Homo sapiens: one gene and its partner. The protein of the gene in region 1 interacts with the protein of each later gene in a biochemical or structural test. Each region holds a gene or a part of one and is shown in the gene's direction. Other genes may lie near its edges. The genes, in order: EYA2 and GNAZ.

Region 1 (16,298 bases):
GGAATTACAGGTGTGTGCCACCATGTCCAGCTATTTTTTTTTTTTTTTTGTATTTTTTGTAGAGCTAGAGTTTTGCCACATTGGCCAGGCTGTCCTCCAACTCCTGACCTCAGGTGATCCACCCGCCTCGGCCTCTCAAAGTGCTGGGATTACAGGTGATTTTTATATCACATTATGGTTGTTGTATCTCAAAATACCTTTTCTAGGCAGCACTAACTTTAAAATTAGCTTGCTGCTAGATCCTGTTATTTAGTGCATTAATGAAGAAACTCACATGGCCATATCACAATATTTTCATATTTGTATTCACCATATAATTGAAGTACAATAAACTGGAAATACTTAAAGTGTTAAATTTTTTTACCATTTTTGACACATGCACCATGAAACCATCACCGCAATCAAGACACTGGACTTTTCCGTCACCCCCACTGGTTTCTCTGTGCCTCTCTGTAATCCATTCTTCCCTTCACTCCCACCCACAGGGGACCATTGATTTGCTTTGTGTCACTATACATTAGTTTACATGTTTAAGAAGTTTACATAAATGGGCCAGGCATGGTGGCTCACATATGTAATCCCAGCACTTTGGGAGGCTGAGGTGAACAGATCTCCTGATGTCAGAAATTCAAGACCAGCCTGGCCAACATAGTGAAACCTGTCCCTACAAAACATACAAAAATTAGCCGGGTGTGGTGGTGCAAGCCTGTAGCCCCTGCTACTCGGGAGGCTGAGGTGGGAGAATTGCTGGAACCCAAAAGGCAGAGGTTGCAGTGAGCTCAGATCCTGAGATCACACCACTGCACTCCAGCCTGGGTGACAGAGTGAGACCTTGTCTCAAAAAAAAAAAAAAAAAAAAAATTTTTACATAAATGGAATCATGATTCTTTTTTGGTAGGGAAGGTTCTGCCTTTTTCACTCAACATCATGGTTTTGACATCCATCTGTGTTATATGTGTATCAATAGTTCATTCTTTTTTATAATTTAATAGTCATTTATTGCATGGATATACCACAATTTGTTTATTCATTTACCTGCTGATGGACATTTAGACTGTTTTTAGATTTGGGCTGTTACAAACAAACTTGCTGTTAACAATCGTATACAAGTCAAGTCTTTGTGCGGATTTGTGTTTTCCTTCCTGTTGGGTGTCAAATAGGTGTGTCAGATGACAGAGGGATGTGCAACTTTTTAAGAAACTGCCAAACTGTTTTGTAAAGTGGTTACACCATTTGACATTCCCACCAGCAATGAATGAGAGTTCTAGCTACTCTACATCTTGCCAGCACTTGGTCTGGTCAATCTTTTTGTTAGCCAATATATTGAATACACGGTGACATTTTATTAGAGTTTAATTTGCATTTCCTTGATTATTAATGTTGAGCATTTCTTTATGTGCCTATTGACCATTTGTATATCATCTTTTTGAAGTGCTGGTTTGAAATCTTTGCCCATTTTAAAAATTGAGTTAATTGTCTTCTTAATTGTTGAGTTGTAAAAGTTCCTCATAGATCTGTTATAGATTCCTTATAGATTCAGAAGATATGTCTGATACATCACATGTCTTTGATACTCAGAACATGTACAACACATGTATCAGACACATCTTCATATATCTGTTATAGATTCTGTTATATGGATAGATTCCTTATAATATAGATTCCTTATATGTGTGTATATAATATGTGTAGGTGTAATCTCAGCTACTCAGGAGGCTGAGGCAGGAGAATCACTTGAACCTGGGAGCCCGGGAGGCAGAGATTGCAGTGAGCCGAGATCGCGCCACTGCACTCCAGCCTGGGCAAACGAACCAGACTCTGTCTCAAAAAAAAAAAAATTATAAAACTTCCAGAAGAAATCATTGCAACCTCGGGGTAGGCAAAGGTTTCTTCGAACACAAAAAGTACAAACCATGAAATAAAATATTGATAAACTGGACGACATCAAAATTTAAAACTTTCGTTCTTCAAAAGACAAAATTGAGAAAATAAAAGGCAAGCCATAGATTGGCAGAAATCTATCACATATATCAGAGACATTTTCTTATATCTGTTATAGATTCTGTTACAAGGATAGATTCCTTATAACAGAGATTCCTTATAACAGAATTGGAGGTTAGAAGCAAGATGGTTAAGTTGGATCTCTTTCACTGTCTCAGTCATAATTTTGCAAAGGTGGTTCCAGGCAGAGAGACCATCTGTCCCAGTTTGCTGGGGACAATCTTAGTTTATGCTTTGTTATTAATGCTCCTTTTGCTCTCAAAAGTGTCCCACTCTCAAAAGGTCTCTAGACCTCTGACCTTGAGGGACTCCTATAGTCTCTTCAGGTACTCCTTACGTCTTCAGGACCACAAAATCTTCTAGAATTTAGAACAATATCTGTTGGGGTTCTGGGGATCTCTGATGTCTCTCAGTCCTTGCTTCCGAGATAATTCCACCGATGCACGCTGAGATCAGTTGACTCCATTCACCATCCAAGACATTATATCCAGCTAAAAGCCAGCAAAAAGACAAGACAAATGTATTAAAAAGCCTTCTGGCTTCATTCTATTTGTTTTTACTCTCCTGGGAAAAGAGAATGCAAAAAGTGACAGATCTTGGAAGGAAATGGCCAGGAGGTGTAGAGATTCTTGTGCTTAGCTGAGAGGGCCAGCGTGGAGCTGGGTGAGGAGGTCACAGAGGAAGAACAGTTAGAGGAGAATGCTGTTTTAAACAGGGTGGTCAGGGTCTCTCTGGGGTAGAGGCATTTGAGCAGAGACCTGAATGGAGTGAGGGTGAAAACCATAGGACTATGTCAGGAAGGGGTAGTGCAGGCATAAAGAGCAGCATGCCTGGGTGTCTCAAAGGTCCCTCTTCACATGAGTGAATTAACATCTCCCACCGAACACTGGTGATCCTGAAATTCTGATGCTCTGCCAGAAAATGCACCCAAGAGTTGATTTCCCATTGTTTTAAATGGGAAACATTATAATGCATGACAGGTCAACCCAAGCCCCCAACACCCCAATCCTCATGGCCTAATCACTTCTTCAAGATCCTGGGCTCAAGAGATCCTCCTGCCTTGGCCTCCCCAAGTGCTGGCCCACTTTCTTGATAATGTTCTCTGCAGCAAAAAAGTTTTTAACTTTGATGAAGTCTAATTTATCTTTTGTTTGTTTGTTTGTTTGTTTTTTTGAGACAGAGTCTCACTCTGTTGCCCAGGCTGGAGTGCAGTGGCAAGATCTCAGCTCACTCTCTTAAAATAGAGCTAAGCACTTAAAATGCTGTCTTAGTCTGTTTGCTCTGCCATAACAAAATACCTGAGATTCTGGTATTTTATAAAGAACAGAAACTTATTTCTTATGGTTCTGGAGGATGAAAAGTTCAAGATCAAGGTGCCGGCAGGTTTGGTAGTCTGGTGAGAGCTGCTGTTTGCTTGCAACATGGTGCCTTGTTGGTGTGTCCTCCAAAGGAGAAGTTGAAGCAAGCCTCTATTTATTTAAGAAGGACCTGAATCTCATTCACAAGGGAGGAACCCTCATGACCTAATCACCTCTTCAAGGACTCACTTTTTTTCTTTTCTTTTTTTTTTTTTGAGACGAAGTCTTGCTCTGTCACCCAGGCTGGAGTGCAGTGGCACAATCTCGGCTCTCTGCAAGCTCCGCCGCCCGGGTTCACCCTTTTCTCCTGCCTCAGCCTCCAGAGTAGCTGGGACTACTGGCGCCCGCCACCACACCTGGCTAATTTTTGTATTTTTTAGTAGAGATGGGGTTTCACCGTATTAGCCAGGATGGTCTCAATCTCCTGACCTCGTGATGCGCCCACCTCAGCCTCCCAAAGTGCTGGGATTACAGGCGTGAGCCACCTCGCCCAGCCAGGACTCACTTCTTAATTCCATCACATTGGCCATTAAGTTTCAACTCCTGAATTTTGGAGGGGACACATTCAAACCACAGCACATGTCTACCAGTAAGTATCAAAGCAGTAAAATGTTTCAAACATAGCTTCCTGATCACCAAATCATCAGGAAAGTTTTCAACAAATAATTGGTTTGTCTGTGGCAACACAGCCACATCTGATTGCATGTCCCTTTCATTGCTCCTTAGTGTACTTTTCTAAATGTGATTCTGATGTTCTCTCAGTGGTAGTTGACATGCTGCTTTTCCTGCATGGTGTTTTGATGGAGATGCTAACTCTAATTTGGGGGATACAAATATCAGTTTTTCTTTGTAAATATTCATCTGATAATTGTGAGAAATGTGCCTTCTATGAAGTTTGAGTATTAAAAACAAAGTCATTTTATTGGAAAACTACTTACTGAAGAGACATTTGAAGCATCCCTGTATTTGTCTGCTTGGGTTAGGAAGGACGTGAGATTTCTCTCTCTCTGTCTCTCTCTCTCTCTTTTTTTTTTTTTAATGTTTGCAAAAAGCCCCTGCCCATCCCCACATACACACTGTATCATAAACTGCCTTTTTTGTAAAGACTCATGAGAAAATTTCTCTCCTGTATCAATATCAGGCAAAACTCTGATTTGCCCAAGTCATTTGGTTTCTTTCTCATAGAAGAATTAAGAATCATGAACACTGGCTGGGCACAGTGGCTCACGCCTGTAATCCCAGCACTTTGGGAGGCCGAGGCAGGCGGATCACCTGAGGTTGGGAGTTCGAGACCAGCCTGACCAACATGGAGAAACCCCGCCTCTACTAAAAATACAAAAATTAACTGGTCATGGTGGTGCATGCCTGTAATCCCAGGTACTCGGGAGGCTGAGGCAAGAGAATCGCTTGATCCCAGGAGGCAGAGGTTGCAGTGAGCCGAGATTGCATCACTGCACTCTAGCCTGGGCAACGAGAGTGAAACTCTGCCTCAGGAAAAAAAAAAAAAAAAGAATCATGAACACTATGGAGCACTTTGAAATCCATGATTCTTAATCTTGACTCTGCAGAGCTTTGGGGGTTCCTTCAAGACCTTTACACATACCTACAGGAGAAAGGGGTGAGGCATAAGGCTGTGGCTGGGAACCCTCACCTCCTTTTTCCATACTGAACTTCTATACATACTAGATTTTAAACAAAGGAAAGTTTGAAAGCCACTGATGTAACTGATCACATTTCTGTCCTTGCAGTGGCTGCCTGGAAGCTCAGCATCTAATTCTCAGTTCTCCACTGACAAGTGTCCAGGACCTTCTAGCTCACATTTTGTGTGCAAACCTTACCTTGACTTTCTTTTGTTTTCTTTCCTGTTTCCCTGTTGTCTGCTTTTCTTGTTTTCTTTATTCTGCTGCCATATATATGGTTTTATATGTTGCCTCAAATCCTTTTTGGAAAGAGCCAAGGTTTAAGTGAATGTATTTTAAAAAATTGAATGCTTTTTCTGTAGAGGTGACCTTTGCAGGTGGGAAAGGAATATGTTTAGAAAAAAGGCATGATTTGTAGAATTCACATGTGTGTTTGTAGGATATGTATATACATATCCTACAATGAATATACATACATTGGATATATTGTGAGGTTCATAGTTTTCAAAATTAATGTGTTTTTCTGGCTTTAGAGGGCATTTACTTGGAAGACTGGAGTGGGGGAAATGTGTTTTACTCCAAGGTAGGCATGACTGTGGACTACACCACAAAGAATCTGCTGTATGGCTTAGCACTTTCAAATTTTGTTTGGGATCATTTTGCTGGTTGTTATCAAATGAGGACAAATACTTAACAAAGAGATAGCAAGGGAAGAAAGAGACAGAAAGGGGGTGCTTCTACATAGGAAGGTGGCTGAATTTTCAGGGTCTTGAATTAGCATTGGGGGCTTAAGTCCTATCAGCTTCTGCTCATCTGCTGTGACTCTGTGGTCAAGGTCTCACTCTCCCAAAGATAGGGATTCTCTTCCTCTGCTGTATATTGGAATCACCTAGGGAGCTTTAAAAAAGGATGATGCCGGCCAAGCACAGTGGCTCACGCCTGTAATCCTAGCACTTTGGGAGGCCAAGATGGGTGGGTCACCTGAGGTCAGGAGTTCAAGAGCAGCCTGGCCAACATGAAGAAACCTTGTCTCCACTAAAAATACAAAACTTAGCTGGGCGTGGTGGCACATGCCTGTAATCCCAGCTACTTGGGAGGCTGAGGCAGGAGAATTGCTTGAATCCAGGAGGTGAAGGTTGCAGTGAGCCAAGATCACACCATTGCACTCCAGCCTGGGCGACAGAGTAAGGCTCCTTCTCAAAAAAAAAAAAAAAAAAAAAAAGGCAGATGCCACAGTTCCACCCCAGAGTCTGGTTTAATTGGTCTAGGATGGGGACTCAGCATGGAGATTTTTAAAAGCTCTCCCTGGAGATTCTGTGCACCCAGAGTTGAGAATCACAGCGCTAAGAGAAGGAAAAATAAAATTAATAAGCACCTGCCTCCTGCTTATCTCTCAGGGTCGTTGGGGTGTGTCTGTAATTTATGAAATAATGGGCCAGATTCTGGGGAAGGAATAAAATGGTATGAAGGAAATAGATTAACCCTTTGCATTCTATAGGGTACCTTTGGTTAACAAGTGTTCAAGATTTTTCCCCATGAGCCACAGGAAGAAACATTTCACATCCTGACCAAAGATATAGATATAGATATGGATATAGATATAGATACAGATACATGTGTGTATATATATATGTATGTATGTATACGTATATATGATATACGTATACATATATACATATATATCTCTCCATTGTAAATTGAAAATATCCTAAGTTCAAAATGCATTTAATACGCCTAACCTACTGAACATCATAGCTCAGCCTAACCTACCTTAAATGCACTCAGAACACTTGCATTACCTCGCAGTTGGGCAAAATCATCTAATACAAAGCCTATTTTATAATACAGTTTTGAATATCTCATGAAATTTATCAAATATTTTGCTGAAAGTGAAAAATAGAATGGTTGTATGGGTATCTCAATTGTGGTTTCTACTGAATACACATCACTTTCACATCGTCATAAAGTCAAAAAAATCATTAAGTGAAACCATCATAAATTGGGGACCATATGTATACATTTAACTATATATAGGGGATCATATGTATATATGTAACTATATATGTATAGGTATGTATATATATTCTTACTGCATACAATTCACTTGATATTTCCTATTCCAGTCTATTCCTTTAGGAAAAAAAAATTAAGGTTCACAGGCCAAGACAAATTAAACACCTCTGAAGGTCATTAAGATGCTCAATTTATAATGACTTGGAGCACTTAGCAAAGATACTATGGGAAGTGAAGCTGTGTGTACAGTAATAATATTTGTTGAGCAATTGCTAGTGCCAGCTGCAGTCATAGTAGAAAGTGTTTTATGAGCATGAGCTCCATGAATTTTCACAATAATAGTATAAGATGAGTACTGTTATTTTCACTTTAGTGATGAGAAAATCAAGGCCAAGTACATATGTACATTCTGCCTCTAGAAGACAGAAGCAGAGCCATCTCCAAGCCTACTGCGGCAGGCCCAGAGAAGAGAACAACCATGTTTACTGAATACATTTGCTTCTGTCTGAAGTTTGGGGAGTAGAAAGCGGAGTAAGCTATGACCAGAGGTGGGTCTGGGAATGGTGAGGCCTGATACATGTATAATTTGCAGCCCCTATTCAAGAAAAAGAGTACAAAATTATGAGTCCAAGATTAGATAAGAAAATGATTATTTCTTTAAATTAAGAAAAGAAATCACAACAAATTCAAATTTTAAGAAGCTGAAAATTACCACAAACATCACAAAATTCCCAACTCAACTTTCCTCCAAAATGCCAGCAGCCACCTGACACCACCCTACTCAAGGGCAAGTTGGGGGTGGGGAATCGGAGTGGAAAGACAGCGGTGTCTACGGCCTGCAGCCAAATGTCCAAAGCAAAGGACTTTTGTAAACTTTACATCAACAAGCCACCATCTGAACACTTTTCTAAGTCCCCTTAGAAAGGGGTCCAAGCAAGTCAGGGGCCCAAGAACTTAACCTTCATCAGCTCCTGTAAACTTACAACTGGAATTGAAGACTGTTACGGCTCAAGAGCAACGGCTTTGGAGTCAGCCAGGCCTGAATTTCATTCCTGGCTCAGCCACTTTCTGCCTTCTTTGAGCTTGGACCTGCTCATTTGTGAAATGAGTGTGCTGACAGCAGCTACCTTGGGGTCTCTCTTGGGGATTACATGAGATAAGGAAGAGTTGGGCATTGGATGAGCTTAAGGTTGCAAATAAAAATATAGGACCCCCGGTTACATTGGAATTTCGGAGACAAAAGAAATACTTTTTAAATATAAGTACGTACAACCAATCGCATAAGACATATACTGCAACTGATTCCTCGTTTCTCTGAAATTCAAATTCACCTGGGTGCCCTGTCTTTTACTGCACTTAAGAAATGACAGTGGTTGATATTGCTTTTGGATTGAAGCATCCTGGGTGTCCCACGGTGGAATTCATAGACATTAGAGAGTGGGTGACGGGCTAGGAAAGGCTGCATAGACTCCAATTAACACAGTTCATTGCCAGGGAGACTAAAAGGGGGGTGGCTATGAGAGGATGGAGTAAGTGGGGTGCCTTGATTTGGGCATGTAGGTGGAGGGGGCTATACCTCTCACTTTCACTAAACCAGTTAAGCTCTTGAGACCTCAGTTTCCTTAGCTGTAAAATGGGTGAAACATAGGGGAGACCCCTGAACCGTTCTCACCTAAATACCACACCAATGGCACTTCCTCATAATTCAGATGTCACCTCCTCAGAGAGGTCTTCCCTGACTGCTCTAGCTAAAATTACCGCCTCTCCTCCACTCCCCAACAGCAGATACATATATTATTTTTCTCCCTGTAACTCTAACTTTCTGAAACTGTCTTGCTTCTTTACTTGGTTATTTGTTTATGGTTTGCCTCTCCATGTGAATGCAAGTTCCGGGAGGGCAGAAAACTAGTCTGTCTTGTTCTAGCTGAGTCTCTCAGGAGTGGTACCTGGCACAGTAGATGCTCAATATATTTTGAATGAATGAATGGGTGGTTGAGTGAACGAATGTTAGTGTCACTATTGAGGTCCTCTCCGAGCCGTCGTTCCTTTCACAGGGGTCATGCCTGGGTTGCAGGGAGGATGTGCTGCCCCGGGGAGGGAGGAGGTGCGGGGTGTCGGTGGGTGGGGAGGAGGCTGGGCCCTGGCCTCCAGGACCGGCGAGAGTGAGCGCGCTCTGCTCGGCTGCAGGCTCAGGAAGCGGCGCGGCGGCACGTGCTGGGCCAGAGCCCCGCGCCCTGCGTCCAGCCGCCGGGTGTGTGCGCCCGCGTAGCCCAGCGTCGCGCCTCGGCGCCCCCACGCGCCCACGCAGCGGCGCGGGGACCCGGGCGGGGGCAGAGGGAGGGCCCGGCCCAGGGAGGAGAAGGGGCCGGTCCTCCCGGCGCAGGCAGCAGCCGCGGCAGCCCAGGAGGCGGAGGCAGCGGCAACGGCAGAGACAGCAACGTGCCCGCCGCAGTCAGCCCGGCCTCGTCGGACCCGCACCGGCCCGCCCGCCCGCCCGCACCGCGTCGGGGCGCCCTCTCCACTGCGCGCGGTGAGTACCGCCAGCGGCGCCCACCCCAGGCCGCCCGCCGGGATTCGCCGGGCGGGGGGAGTTGTTCACCGGGACCCCCTCGCCCTGCGCCTCTTTCTGGCACTCGCCAAGCGGGGCCTCCGCAGCTGTCGGGACGTTCTGGGGCGCACGGGCCTCCCAGGGCCAGGAAGGCACAAGGGCAGAGGGGACAGCAGCAGAGCCCCCCTCTGGAAAGGCTCTCCCAGGCTCGGGGCCCCAGTTTCCCCATGCGCTTTGGGGCAACGACCCTGAAGTTTGCTCTCCCGCGCGCGGGACAAGTGCATGGCGCGCAGGCGGTGTAGACGCGGCTGGGTCCTTGGCGTTTTGTTCGATTATGGTCCCGGCGGTTCGCGATAAGGGGCGCTCCCCCAGTCCGCAAACTCAAGCCCTCAGGTAGTGTTTATGGGATAACCAAGAAGCAGAGCCAACCGCTGGAATCCCGGCTTGGGGCTGGAACGGCCCGCTGAGACTTTGCCTTCTAGCTATTGATATATTTCTTTTCAAAAGTCCGTTTGCGCTCGGCCCGCTCTGGTTCAGGTCTGGGGCTTTGAACCGGGGCAGGGAATCCTGGCGCCTGCTGCGGGTAGAGTTGAAACTTAGAAAAGTTTACATCCGAAGGGTGTTTAGAAGGCGGCAAGGATTTCGTTGTAATGGGAGAAAGTGGGAAATGGAATTGTTTTTTAGTCATGAAGTCTGGAGGTTAAACGGCCGTGCTGGCCCAGGCTCCTTCAATATATTCCTGCCTGCCTCCCCCCCAGCAATAAATAGTTTATAAGCTCAAGGAATACTAGGAAAGCGTGACTGGTGAACGTACTCCTATCGCAAAAGACTCAGTGCGCTTTTCTCAGCTGTTGAACTGGAAGCGCCTTTTGCAGTGCGAGGTTCCTGCTTCCCCGAAGCCGAGGCTGAGAGTTGACAGCGTGCACCCTGCCGCGGTCTGAATTCTTTTTAAAAAGCAAGACCGATGCTGCGTTTTTATGGATACCCTTTTCTTTTCTTTCCCCTTCCCCGAAATGCTATGTAATCTTCAATTACTTTTTAAAATATAACGTGGAGGTATAAATCACCCCGGTAAGAGGTACCTTTTAATTACGAGGTGCAGTGGAAGAGCTGAACATTGGAATCTAGCTGTTAGCGAGGGCGGAGGGGCAGGAGGATGATTTACAAACATCATGTAAGAATTTGAGCACTGAATTATGTTTGAGTTAGGGAGATCCCTTACAAAGGAAATTATAACCAGTGGACAATTGTATTTCAAACCGAATCTATTAATTTCATGAGCCGTTTCTTGATTGAGTGAAATGTCTGTGACCATAATAGATACAGAACTAGTAAGCACCTTACCAGACTATGACCCATTTGTTAGCAACTAACATACACATGTAACCATCCTGCTTACAAAAAAAAAAAGAGGTACACAAAGAAAGAGTGGGAGGAGAGAACCTCTTTTTCAAAATAATCTTTGTGAAAGAATCTTTCACAATTTTACTCGATAAATAAATGTTCATTTTTTCCACTTGTCTTTCTTCATCACCTTAAGCCCCTTCATCCTTTACATATCTTTGCATTTAGACACTCTCACACTTGGGTAAGTTCTTCTATAATTTATATAACAAATAACAAATGATAGTGGTTTGAATCTTGCTTTTGACTAAGCATTAAATTGTGTTTGTATTAAAAAAAATCTCCTTGCCTTCGTAGCAAACTCTTAACTTTTGCCATTGTGAAAAGACCAATGTGGTTAGATGCAAAAGAGCCTGAACTTTTTTTTACTTTAAAGCAGTTTATATGTCCCCATTCTCTTGTAACTTCAGCTTCACAATATCATTCACTATTTTATCTGAAAGGAATTGGCATTTTTCTTTTCTGTCTTAAAATAGCTCACCTGGTGTTGTGACCATGTGTATGAGAATACTCTATAAACACACAAATCACTTCCCCAATATCAGAAAAACTAAAGGAAATATAAAATAAAATAAAAAGATGTGTATCTCAATACTTTAGGATTTTTTTAAAAAGTTTTCATCACGTAAGTTTTAGAATCTTCTTTTCATGTCTTTTGTTTTGCATTAAACACATCATAAAGAGGTATGATTTGTTGACTTGTTATAGGATTACCATTTGGCAAAAACGCCCAAGACACGCTGTTTCAAATATGTGGTATTACTTCTGCTTTAAATTGCGTGTAAGAGATTGCAAACCTTGTTCCAGATGGATAAATTGATAAAATGCTAGCTGCTGTTGGGAGAATGGAAAAGCCCTCAGCAAAAAGGCTCTGTGGTGTAGCTAAGTACATTTTGAATTAGGGTGAGCAAGCTATGGAGACCCCAGCCGTTTGTGAAAAAATATACACAGTCCAAGCACGTCCACTTTAAGACGTTGTTGGATCCTCCGTGACAAGATGACTCCTTTCCCACAAAGAAGAAACCGTTTCCTTATTTTTTCAGTTACTTTTCCAAAGACAACTTGCATCGGGCGCAAGAGAGCAGAGTTATGCAGAAATCCAACCGTAACCAGCTCAGAGCGAGGACTCATTCTCTCTCCTTCCACCAGATGTTTTTTAGGTGTCCTCAGCTGGAATGCCCAGTTTGAAACTAATTAGGCCAGCAGTAAACTCCTTGTATAATAAAATCGCAGGCCGTAATGGTGAATAAGTGAGGTTCCCAGCCGCTTATGACAGATGCCTTTCTGGGCAGAGAGAGAAGAGAGCCTGTGGCTGTCAGGAGAAAATGAAGGGAGTGGAGGTGCCTTCTTTAGACACATGCCTTTCCTAAGTATCCACGCACATGATCGCAGAGCGGAGGAGTGGAAGTTGCGACTGGGGTAGAGTTTTGTCTTTGCTGGGCAGGCCTCCTTCATACAAAGATGCTTGGGGGAGAATCAATTATAAGTATTAGGCAGTGTCTTCAGGTCTTAGGTGTATGCTGTGTGTGTGTGTGCAAAGGCTTGGGGAGAAGGATTGGTGTCACGTGCGGGGCAGTGTAAAAAACTTAACTGCTTCCCACCTGGGCACAAAATGAAAAGAAAGACTGCCTGGCCTGACATAAATTCCTTGGGAGAGAGGAGAACCTGCTCCCCCAGAGACTTTTGATAAAGGGAGAATTCGCCTAATGATGTGGTTCCCCTTATCTGTGAGGTTTGTGAGGGTGAAGGAGTTGGTTAGTCTGTTACCTCCAAAGGCTGGACTTTCTGACTAAGACTGGGTTTTGTTGGTGGAAGGAACCGGGTTTTTTGGGTTTTTGTGTTGGTTTTTTTTTTTTTTGGTTGTTTTTGTTTTTGTTTTTTTTAGCTAACTGTTCTGAAAAAGGAGTTGGTAGACTGTGCTCAAAAGGAATCTCTTTACAAAGAATTAATCCCAGAGTTAAGAAAACACAGCCTGTTGACAGAAAACACACACACACACACACACACACACACACCACAATTCTTCACTCACTCCCAACCCTCTTCCCTGATCTCCATCCCCCAATGTCATAACAGCTTCCTGAATGGCCCACTTCTCCCCACTATCATTTGTGGCAGTTCAAACAGTCCTAAACATACAAAACAAAAAGAAGATTCTGGTAAGAAAACAATTAGCAGAGAATTCGCTGGAGACAATGCTTCGTTTTCACTGTTTGAAGATCGTAACTGGCCTAATGGTGTTTGACTAACACCCTTTTCTAGTCGGAGGAGGATAAACACCCCCTCCGTCAGGTGGTAAATACTTGAAGTGACAGTAACTGAGGCTGCAGACCCACTTGTGTTATTGTAAATGAATCAGAGGGGCAAGACCTTGTTCTTTACGGCGTGTGATTTAAAATCAGTTTTAAGGTACCTGCCAGGTGTATTTAGAGGAAAAGGCATGAAGGAAGCCACAGGCTTATACATTCATTTTTAGTGCATATTTCTTTTTGTTCATTTTCATCCTATTGAGTTCCTTTGTCATTTCTCTGACTTGCAAATTATACCCTTCTGTTTAATAGTAATGATGAAAATAGCTGCTGTTTATTGAGAACTGGTATACCAGGCCTGCAGTCAGCTCTTCACGTGTATTTTTAAAGTGGATTCTTGCCGCAACCCCTTGAGTATTATTATCATTATTTCAACTTTGTTAACAAGGAAACTGAGTCGCAGGTCAAATGACCGACACAGGGCCAGACTGAGTGAAAATGAAATCTACGCTTTTGCTTCTCTGCAAAGTATGCCTTATCCATGTGCAATACAAGCTTTGGCTCAAAACATTTCTGCTATCATTTCCTTTGGAGGAAGATGCTGAATTTGGATGGTTTTAAATGCACAGAACACAGTTATTTTCTGAACCTGCCCTGACGTTTTTTGCCACTGTCGTTTGAAATGGGGAAACAAAATCATATTAAATATTCAGGAACACAAATACAAACCTCTGTGAGCCATGACCCTTAACCGGTTGGGTATGGTTCTGTAAAGGAAAATGACGGTTTATTTAAGGGCTAATTTGATTTATTCCTTCGATACTAACACTACGCATTTCAGGTCCTAAAAAGAGTCAATAAATTTACCGGCAGTGGAGAGGCCCTAAAACATTACGGTAGGCGCAGCCCAAGTCAAGTTTACCGGAAGGTGCTGGATCGCTATGGGTGGGTGTTGTTTCGGGTTAGATTTTAAACATTTGGAGAGCAAAGAATAATTTGGAACAGGTGGTGCCGAGAGTCAGGTAGCTGGAATGATTTATCTTTGCCTCTTTGAACGTTAAGGGAGGCCACTGGTTGCCTGAATCTGGAACCAGCAGGCTGCGGGTCAGTGGGGGCTGAGAGACTCGTCTTTGGGACAAACTTTGGCAGGATCCAGGGGCTTCGTCAGCGCTGTCATCGCCTTTGGATGATAGTAGTCAGAACACAGTTGTGCCTGCTCGTGCATTTTTGAAAAGTCTGCCTCTGCCTTCAGATATATGCAGAAATCTAAAACAGGAACTTAGACGCGCCGCAATGCCAATTTAAACATCTTTAAAAATGAACAAAGTATGTAATAGAGGTTAGAAACTCTTTTGTCATTTGGTATCAATAGTGTTGTGTCAGTAACATGAAAATGTGTGTAATTTCAATGGCATTGCACTTTCTTCTTCTTTTTTCCTTTTGAGTATCTAGTAAAGTTACATTTTTTAAAAGTCTGTGTTCCCAGATGTAATAGATACGAACGTATCTACTTGCAGTCATTCAGAGGAGAATTGTCAACTCTCTGCTAATGTAACTAAAGGAAAAATGATAAAATCAACATATTTTTCCCCAAAGAATGAGGAACTGGAGGGTTTGACTACTGTATATGGCAACTTACTTTTGTCTCGCGTCAGCTAAATCTGTCAGTTCCCCTTTCTTTTCTATTCATCTCCCAAGAATGGCCTTTCATAACTGAAATACACGTGTATTAGCCAAAAGACATTTTAATTTTGTAAAGAAAAATCATGCCAGAGACAGCCGGGTCTGTTTCAACCATTATTGTTTCTGCAGCATGCATACTTTGGGTTTCATGGTAAGATGTGGGTTTGTCAAGAAAGAAAATTACAGCAAGAAGCTATGCTGAAAACATATACACTTCTGTTTAAGAAATGAGAAAAACACAGAAAAATTCCACACAGTAATTGCTTTTACGTGAGTTTTAAATGTCATTGTTTGACTTATGTCAAAAAGCCCCCTTAGCCAGTTCTCTCATACTCCGTTACCAAATATCTCACCTTAAAAACAGCAAATGTTGGACTTCATTTTGATGATCTTTGAGGCTTTCAGAGATATCCTTAGTCCTAGTGGAAACATTCCAAATTTTTAGATTGTGCAGGCCATTTTTTTAAGGTTACTTAGATATCGATTTTATTTTCTTGACCCAAAATGAGAAAACACGGGGAATTCTCAAAAGCTTTTTACAGGCTGCTATTACGAGAAGAGAAGCCAAACCAACATGTATTAGGTCATGCGCTTGAAGTGCATAAATAAGCCCTATGAAGGTCACCAAACAGGGTGAAAACCACTAGTTCTCGTTACCTTGGCCACCTCTAAATTCCTGCCTGTTAGACGTGTTTGGTTGAAGTGGACACAGAAAGCGGGTTTCCGAGCCCGTGGTTGAAAGATCTCAATTTGACTTGGGTCCTCAAGGCGTCCTTGTGGTAAAGGGAGATAGGAAGGCTGAAATTCTGGTCTCCTCCCCATGGCTCCCTCTCACGGTTCCGGAGAAAAAGCAGGTACTGGGGCCTTCTCTTACTCCAAAGCAGATGTTTCCTACCTGGTATTCGGATATGCGGAAGTCAGAAGCTGAAAATAAAATGAAATGAAAATGTTCCTTCTGGTCAGTTTCTTCACCTCCCATTCCCTTCCTATAGTCACTTTGTGGTTAAGGTATTCATGGTTTCCAAAACAATTTTTTGTTCCCACTATGTTTTCTAGCATTTAAGATGCAAGGTATAAGTACTCACCTTTAAATCTCTATTGATTGGCAGCTTCCTGAAATACAGAGTCAGAGAGCGTGTCCACCACGTCCTGAGTTTGGTACCAACCCAGGTGCTGATGGAAATTCCAAGTAGGGAGAAAACGTCCTCTTCGGAGAGGCAGGGTGTCAGCGCAAAGAGGTTATTTTCTTTTGTGGGTGTGTATTATTTGCACATATCAGGACTTTTGTTTCAGGGTGTTCTAGAAACATTGATCTCTCCAGCAAAGTTCTGCGTGTCCTTCTTGGTTGGGAAGGGAGCGGAGAGGAAGGAGCCCCGAGGAGAATCGTGCACCTTTGGCCTTT
Region 2 (7,000 bases), on another chromosome or scaffold:
TGAACCTCATTATCCTCATCCATACCCAAAGCCAAGAGTGCCCTGCCCTGTCCCCACACCAGCCCCTGCCACACATTTTGGCCCTTTCGTGCGAACACCGCCAGGGGAGGCGCTTCACAGGATTGAACCAACAGGGACCGCTTGACAGATCCTAGAGCACATAGGAGGAGACATCAGCCCTCTGGACTGAGCCGGAGGAGCAGAACCTCACGCGATTCATCCATTCATTTGTTCAGCTAACATTTACCAGCGCCTGCTGCATGCCAGGCACTGTGCCAGGTGCAGGGGTACAGCAGGGACGTAGCATCCACTCACAGTGCTCACACCAGACGGGCAGGGGTTGACAGTAACACATGTTACTAAGTGCTGCACTGTGGAGAACACTAAAGCAGAAGGTGGGGGACACGAGATGGGGGTGGGGGACTGACACAGTGCCATGCAGAAGTGCTGGGTGAGTGGTGTGGCTGAGCAGGGGAGAGACAGCAGGTGCAAAGGCGCTGAGCAGACACTCCCTGGCCCCTGGAGGCCCCACCAGAGTGGCTGGAACCTGGTGCAGGAGTGTGGGTGGGGTGTCAGGGCCAGGTCCTGCAGGACTCAGTGGGCCCCAATGAGGCAGGAAGACCTTGGCAGGGTTGGAGCAGAGAAGAGACTGGAGCTGCCCTCCCAGGAGGAGCTAATCTACACTTTGAAAAGATCTCTCTGCTGAGGTGGGAAAATAGGCTAGGGTGGGGTAAGGCTGGGGGCCATGAGGGGCTACTGCAACATCCCAGGCAGAGAGGCTGCTGACCCAGGGGTGGGAGCTCTGGAGGCCCTGAGAAATGCAGGTGGGAGATTTGTTTTTTTAAAGCTGCAGCTTTTAAAGGACAGCTGCAGTTTTGGTCTGAACCAGTAGAAAGATGGAGCTGGTATTGGCTGAGAAGCAAGATACAGAAAAACCCATTCTGGAGAGGTGGGGAATTAGGAGGTGGGTCTGAGACCTGGAGAGCCATTGATGGGCACATGTGGCCAGAGGGAGAGCAAGGCTGGAGGTGGCAACCTGGAGCCCCTGGCACTGAGGTGTGTGGCAGGCCGGGGACCACGTGAGGTCACTTAGGGATCAAGGGTAGGTAGGATCAGAAGAGGCTGAGCTGGGCTCCTGGGCCTCCACTGTGGGGAGGATGAGTTGAGAAGCATCGAGAAAGAGAGATTGAGGATTGACGGGCAAGTGAGGTGGAAGCACAGTCACAGTGGCGCCTCGGGAGGCTGGAGAAGAGCGGGTCCCAGAGAGCAGGTCCCCTGTGTCAAGCAGGCAGGGCATGCCCAGGGACTGAGCAATGCAGGCACAGCTGGCCACATGATTTTGGGGGCCCCCATTTGAAAATTATTAAGGGCCTGACATGATGGCGCACACCTGTAATCCTATACTATGGGAGACTGAGGTAGGAGGATCACTTGAAGTCAGGAGTTTGAGACCAGCCTGAGCAACATGTAAGAGCCTGTCTCTACAAAAGTAAAACTAAAATTATGCATTCCAGAACAGCAACAGCAGAGCATTAAAACTGTATGGATGCCCAAGTGAGTGCCCAGGAAGCTGGCTGGTCACAGGGACCTCAAGGATAATATTGGGGATGTAGTGGCCCCTGTGGAGAAGGAAGGCCTGGAGGGTGGGCCCGCAACCTGCCTGCTGCCCAGTCCCCACAGCATTTCTCCTCCCTTCCCTGAGTGGGCGGGTGGGTTGCGTTGGACTTTCAGGGCCGCTGGAGTCAGTCACACCCAGCCTGTGAGCTTCACCTTGGCACCATGGCCCAGGGAACCCAAAGTGAAAACTGCAGCAGGCAATTGCCTGCTGCAATTCTTCACTAAATGTCTTGCTTCTTGCCCCTTGGTCTGTGGACCCTTGGGCAAGAGGCAGCAGGAGGCACATCTTGAGGTTGAGGTTTAGATGGTCCCATCAGCAGGCCCTGGACCTACATGGCCACAGCTTCACACAGCAATGGCTTCTTTGCGTTCATCTCTTTTCCAAAGGAAGCTGCCACATCACAGAGTTTTGAGTTATTTGCTTCTAAATTAAGGTATAACTCTCTTTTAGAGACGTCCCTGGAGAATCCATCAAAAAGTGCTAAGAAGCGAGACTGTTAAAAGCCACAGTGCAGGGAGGGGCCTTACACATAGTGTCAAGCCCGGGGGTGTTCCTTCTAGCAGCCTCCAACCAGAAACACACCCCGTCCCCGAGGGCTCAGCCAGGCCTCTCATGGCCATGGGGGACCGTGGTTGTGGTTAGAGCAAACCTTTCAGGAGACCCTTGGCCCCTGGGATGGAGAGCTGCCAGGACAGAGGTCCCTTTGTGAGGTCTGCCCCTGTGAGTCACGGAGGCCAAGGTCCTTTGTGAGGTCTGCCCCTGTGAGGTCTGCTCCTTTGTGAGGTCTGCCCCTGTGAGTCATGGAGGCCAAGGTCCTCTGAGGTGTGGAGAGTGGACCTCATGTGCCCAGTGCCTTAGTAGGTCTGGGCAGCCCCGCATCTGGGCAGCATGGTCCCTCTCACCCTGGTTGGTCATAGGAAGGGTGGCTGAGGAGGAGGCTGTGCTGGAGGCTGGCATGGCAGTGAGGGCTGGCTCTTAGGCTGTGGCCCTGCTCCAGACAGGGCTGGTGGGGCCTCTATGTAGAACAGCGCCATGTTCCTGACCATGTTTCCTATGCCCTTTCCTGCTGCTATTTTTTTCCCCTTAGCACTCGCCACAGCGTGACCTGCTCCCTATTTGATTCATTCATCGTATGTGTTTGTGTAAGCTCCATGAGGGCAGGGACGTTGCGGAGTCACCATTGAGAATCGCCACCCAGGGAGTCGCTGTGGAGGGACTGAATATTCGCAGACAGTCATGCCTCAGTGGCCCTGTCCAGCCCCTTTTGCCCTAGGGCTGAGCTGTGTGCTCGTGCGCTGCAGAACCCCTGCTCCAGCTCAACCCTCTGCTCCTAAGAGGTTGTACCTTTGGGTCCCCAGAGATGTGTCTCTGGGCCTCAGGTTTGGCCACCAAACACAAACCACCCTCAGGTGGATGCTACCAGCTGGGCCCCGTCAGGCCCAACTGTGGGTTACTCTCAAGCCAGAGGCAGGTGGACAGATGCCTCGGGCTGACGCCGGGCCACTCAGTGATGCAATGTGACTCAGTGGGGCCTTTGTCAGACACGGGGATTCACAGAGTGATGACCTTCAGAGGCATGTCTATGGAAAACTGTCCTAAGGGGATGAGCCAAGACCCTGAAGGTAGTAAAGGAACATGATGATGGTAGAGTGGCCTTTCCAGGTGGCCCCTGTGCCCCAAGATCAAGGAGTGGCCTCTCAGGCCAGTAGAGGAGCTCAGGGCAGGGGAAGGCACCAGGCCTGGGTAGAAGTCCAGCTCTGCCTGTGATGGTGACCCTGCGAATGCTTTCCACTCTCTGGGCCTTCCTTGCCTTTGAGTTGGAAGCTCTGGGCTGGGTCAAGTGTACAGATAGTTTCCTTCCTTATCTCAACTCTGGAGTGACCGTCCAAAGCATGCTGTGCTGAAGAGGATTCTAAGGCTGTGCTGCAGCCCAGAGGGAAAGAGTCATGGTCGATTAGTGATGTCTGCAGCGGGCACGGGAGGCAGGATTTAGATGAGCTTGCCAGTGACTGGTGAACCTCACCACTGTACCCCCTCCTATCTAGCAGCTTTAACCCACCCTATCTCTCCTTACATGCCCCTTCCTTAGTGACACTGATGCTAACCCCTTATTGGGAAGGACTGGCCTCCGTCTTCCTGAGTCCCATGAGCAGCTCAGGTCATTGCTTGCTGACTGTCTCTTCTCTCATTTGATGCCTCACTCCCTGTAGTGACCTCAGGGTCCAACCCCATGCTTCGTTCATGGCAGCCTCTTTCTGTACACTGAAGAATGAATAAGTGAATGAGTGGTAGAGACTCAACCACTCTACAAGGCCGGGAGCCTCCTCTTGGATGTACACCTGATGTTGATCTCTGTTCCAGCAAGGAGCCCCTAGAAGCCTTCTTGGAATTGGGAGGCTGGATGGCCACGGAAACAAGGTGCTAAACCGTGTGGTTTCAGCTCCAGGTGTTGCAGGAGTGGGGTCAGCAAGGGAGGAGGGGGCAAGGTGACTAAGGAGGGCTGAGGCATGTAAAGTACCAGGCTCTGTGTTTGTGGGGCCCGGTGGTCCTGTCTGACCTTGGCTATGGAGCAGCTAATCAGGCTTCCCCAGAGGCAAAGCTGGGAAAACCTTCCAAGCTGCCAAGAGGGGCCTTCTGAAGACCCTTCTGACTATGGGTGGGAGAACTTGGCACCTACAGCCTTCACCCTGACCCCAGCAGGCCCTGACCCCCTGTGAACTGGTGGTACCTCACCCCTACTCCTCTTGCACCCCCACACTAGTGGCCCTACCCCTAACTGTGGCCAGGCCAGGGGAGGAGCAACTCCACCATGAGGGCTTGGCCCTCATGCCTCCTCCTGCCCAGCTCTGCATGGCATGTCCCTCTGGCCTTAGCTGCCCCAGCTGCATGTGGCCTCAGGCCAGCCCCACCCAGCCCTCTTGCTTCCTGTGGCCCTGTAGAGTGGCTACCAGGACCCCTGCTGGTGAGGGCGGGTGCGGGTGGCCTGTCTCCGAGCTGGGCTTTCCTCCAGCATGGTCACCCCCTCACCCGCTCAGTTACCTCTGATATGCTGTGCAAACATATTTCTCGATGAAATGCTGGGAAGAAAAATAATTAGAGTGTTGCCTCCATTATCCAATTTCGGATTAATCAAACTCTCTTTGTCCTCGGCCAAAATCTATTCATTTCCCTTAAACACTGGGCCAGTGCCAGGCATTGATTTCCTCTATGATAACACCACGCACGCAAGCACAGCCATGCCCAGCCTTGCCCCACCCCGTGGCTGGGACACAGAGGCACTGGTGGGGCTGCCCTTGTCCCCCCAACACTGCCCACCTCCTCCAAGGAGTCTCCTGGCCACACTGACACCCCCATCTCTGTCGTGGCTCCTGGAGTGCTTGGCCTCAGTCTCCAGTGTGTTTGTCTTGCCACGCTGGCTGTTCTGGGGCTCTCCCTCCTCCCAGGATGGTGTGGAATGGATAGAGGAGGTGTGGAGGGTGTGGCCACTGCGGTCCCCAGGGACCACAGGGAATGGGCTGCAGCCCCAGGCTCTGGGTGGGCCAGGGTTTGGGGGATTATCCCCATCACTGGCACAGGAAGAAGGCCAAGGGTGAGGGCCAGGGCTTCTAAGGGGGCTGAGGGGCCATGCAATGTATGTGGGGTGGGAGCACACTTGCAGGGGTAGCAACAGAAGCCCAGCCCCAAAGGGCTTACAAGATGAGGGGACATCCTGGCTCCCGGGCCTGAGGGCTTAGTCGTGGGGCAGCATCAGGATCGGCCAAGTCCAGGTGGGCGGGGGCTGTGCGTCTACCCGTGTCCACCCAGGGAAGGCCACGGGCCTTTCCAGAAGACCTCCCAGAAGTCCCCAACTATCCCCTCCGTGAGCCACGTTGACCGATTCCTCACTCAGTCACTACGAGGGCCTGGGATTGATTTATTGGCACCTGCTTGGTGCTAGGTCCATGTGGGCACATGGGATACATCAATGAACAAACAGACCAACAGTCCCTGCCCTATGGCACAGTGGGAAAGAGGTGGGCGATAAACACTCTAAGTAAATTATACAGTGTGCTAGAAAGGGACCATGCTTGGGGCAAGGCAGCACACGTGGTGTGGCTGTGTGCGAATATGGGGGTCATTTTCCATCGTAAATAGGATGGGCAGGGAGGCCTCCTAAGGAAGGGACATCTGAGCCATTGGATGGGGAGAGGGCGCGGAAGCGAAGTCCACTTGGCTTTCTGGACAAAGAGTTTTCCAGGAGGAAGGAACAGCCAGTGCACAGGCCCTGAGTTAAGAGTGAGGGATGGTGCTAGAGAGGCAGCTAGAGGCAGCATGGCAGGAGTGGGGGAGGGGGAGCATGGGCGTGGGAGTCAGAGAGGCCAGGCATTGCACAGCCCTGGTGCCCTGGCTGGACTTTGACTCGGGGTCTGCCCATGTCAAGCAAGCGTCGGGAGCAAACATGAGAAGGTTTCAAGCACAAGTGAGACATACTCTGCCTCATTTTTACAAGGATGCCCCTGGCTGCTGGTGGAGCACAGGGCACAGGGGGCTGGAGACAGCAAGACCAGAGAAGTCATACTGCTGCAAAACAGATGAGAGGCTGGGGCTGGCTAGCGGGAGTGAGTGGTAGAATTCTGGACAGTCAGGGCAATTAAGGGTTCCCCTGAGGCTGGCTGGGTCCAGCCACAACCTGTGGTGCCAGCCTCAGTTCTCAAGGAAAGGGACGCAGGGAAGGCGTGCTGGGCATGTAGTGGACACCACTCATGCCCCTAGGTCCCCAAGGTAGGGGATGGGATTGTGGGATGCCACACATGGAGGCAGAGGGCAGGAGGTTGCAGGGCCTCAAAGACCCAGAAGGTGAAATCAGATTCCCCACTCAAGTGAGGGTTTGATGGAGTCAGCAGTTTCCTTCCCTGGGGAAACTGGGGAGCCAGGAGCCTGGGGCTACGGCTCTCTCCAAGGCAGCAACCTCTTTGATTTGGCTCTTAATGAAGGCCCCACTTCTTCTCTGCTGTCATGGCCACCCTCTCCTCCATAGGTGGAACCTTTGCATATTGATTTATTTATTTACTCCTGGCCCAGAGAAATATCTGGCTTGATTTCCTCCTGAGTCAGTGTTCCTCAGGCGACACTATCACCCTTTGTCTGGTCAGCCGTGGTGGCTGTGGGCCAAAAGACAGGACAGGTGGCTGAGGGTGTCCAGAGCCAGGACAGCACAGGGTTACAGGGAAGGGCCTCCCTGTTCATCTCATCTCCCCGGTCATCTCATCTCCCCTTCCTTTAGCAGAAGGACACTGGGAGGCCCAGCCGGGGCATAGCCTGGGGTTGTCTGTAGGATGGGGACACTGTGTTCACTAACCGTAGTCCTTCCTCCCATCTGCTCGGACTATGGCTTCAGGATAG

What was found.
Region 2: the proteins of EYA2 (region 1) and GNAZ form a complex in vitro, tested with the Homo sapiens proteins (one study listed by BioGRID).

Annotation. Positions count from the first base shown.
Region 1 is NC_000020.11:46,885,446-46,901,743, forward strand, and holds the start of EYA2 (protein phosphatase EYA2), read left to right. Parts: upstream 1-9,397; 5' UTR 9,398-9,542; intron 9,543-14,942; exon of another isoform or gene 14,943-15,820; intron 15,821-15,981; exon of another isoform or gene 15,982-16,298. UniProt on the Homo sapiens protein: Functions both as protein phosphatase and as transcriptional coactivator for SIX1, and probably also for SIX2, SIX4 and SIX5.
Region 2 is NC_000022.11:23,073,519-23,080,518, forward strand, and holds part of GNAZ (guanine nucleotide-binding protein G(z) subunit alpha), read left to right. Parts: intron 1-7,000. UniProt on the Homo sapiens protein: Guanine nucleotide-binding proteins (G proteins) are involved as modulators or transducers in various transmembrane signaling systems.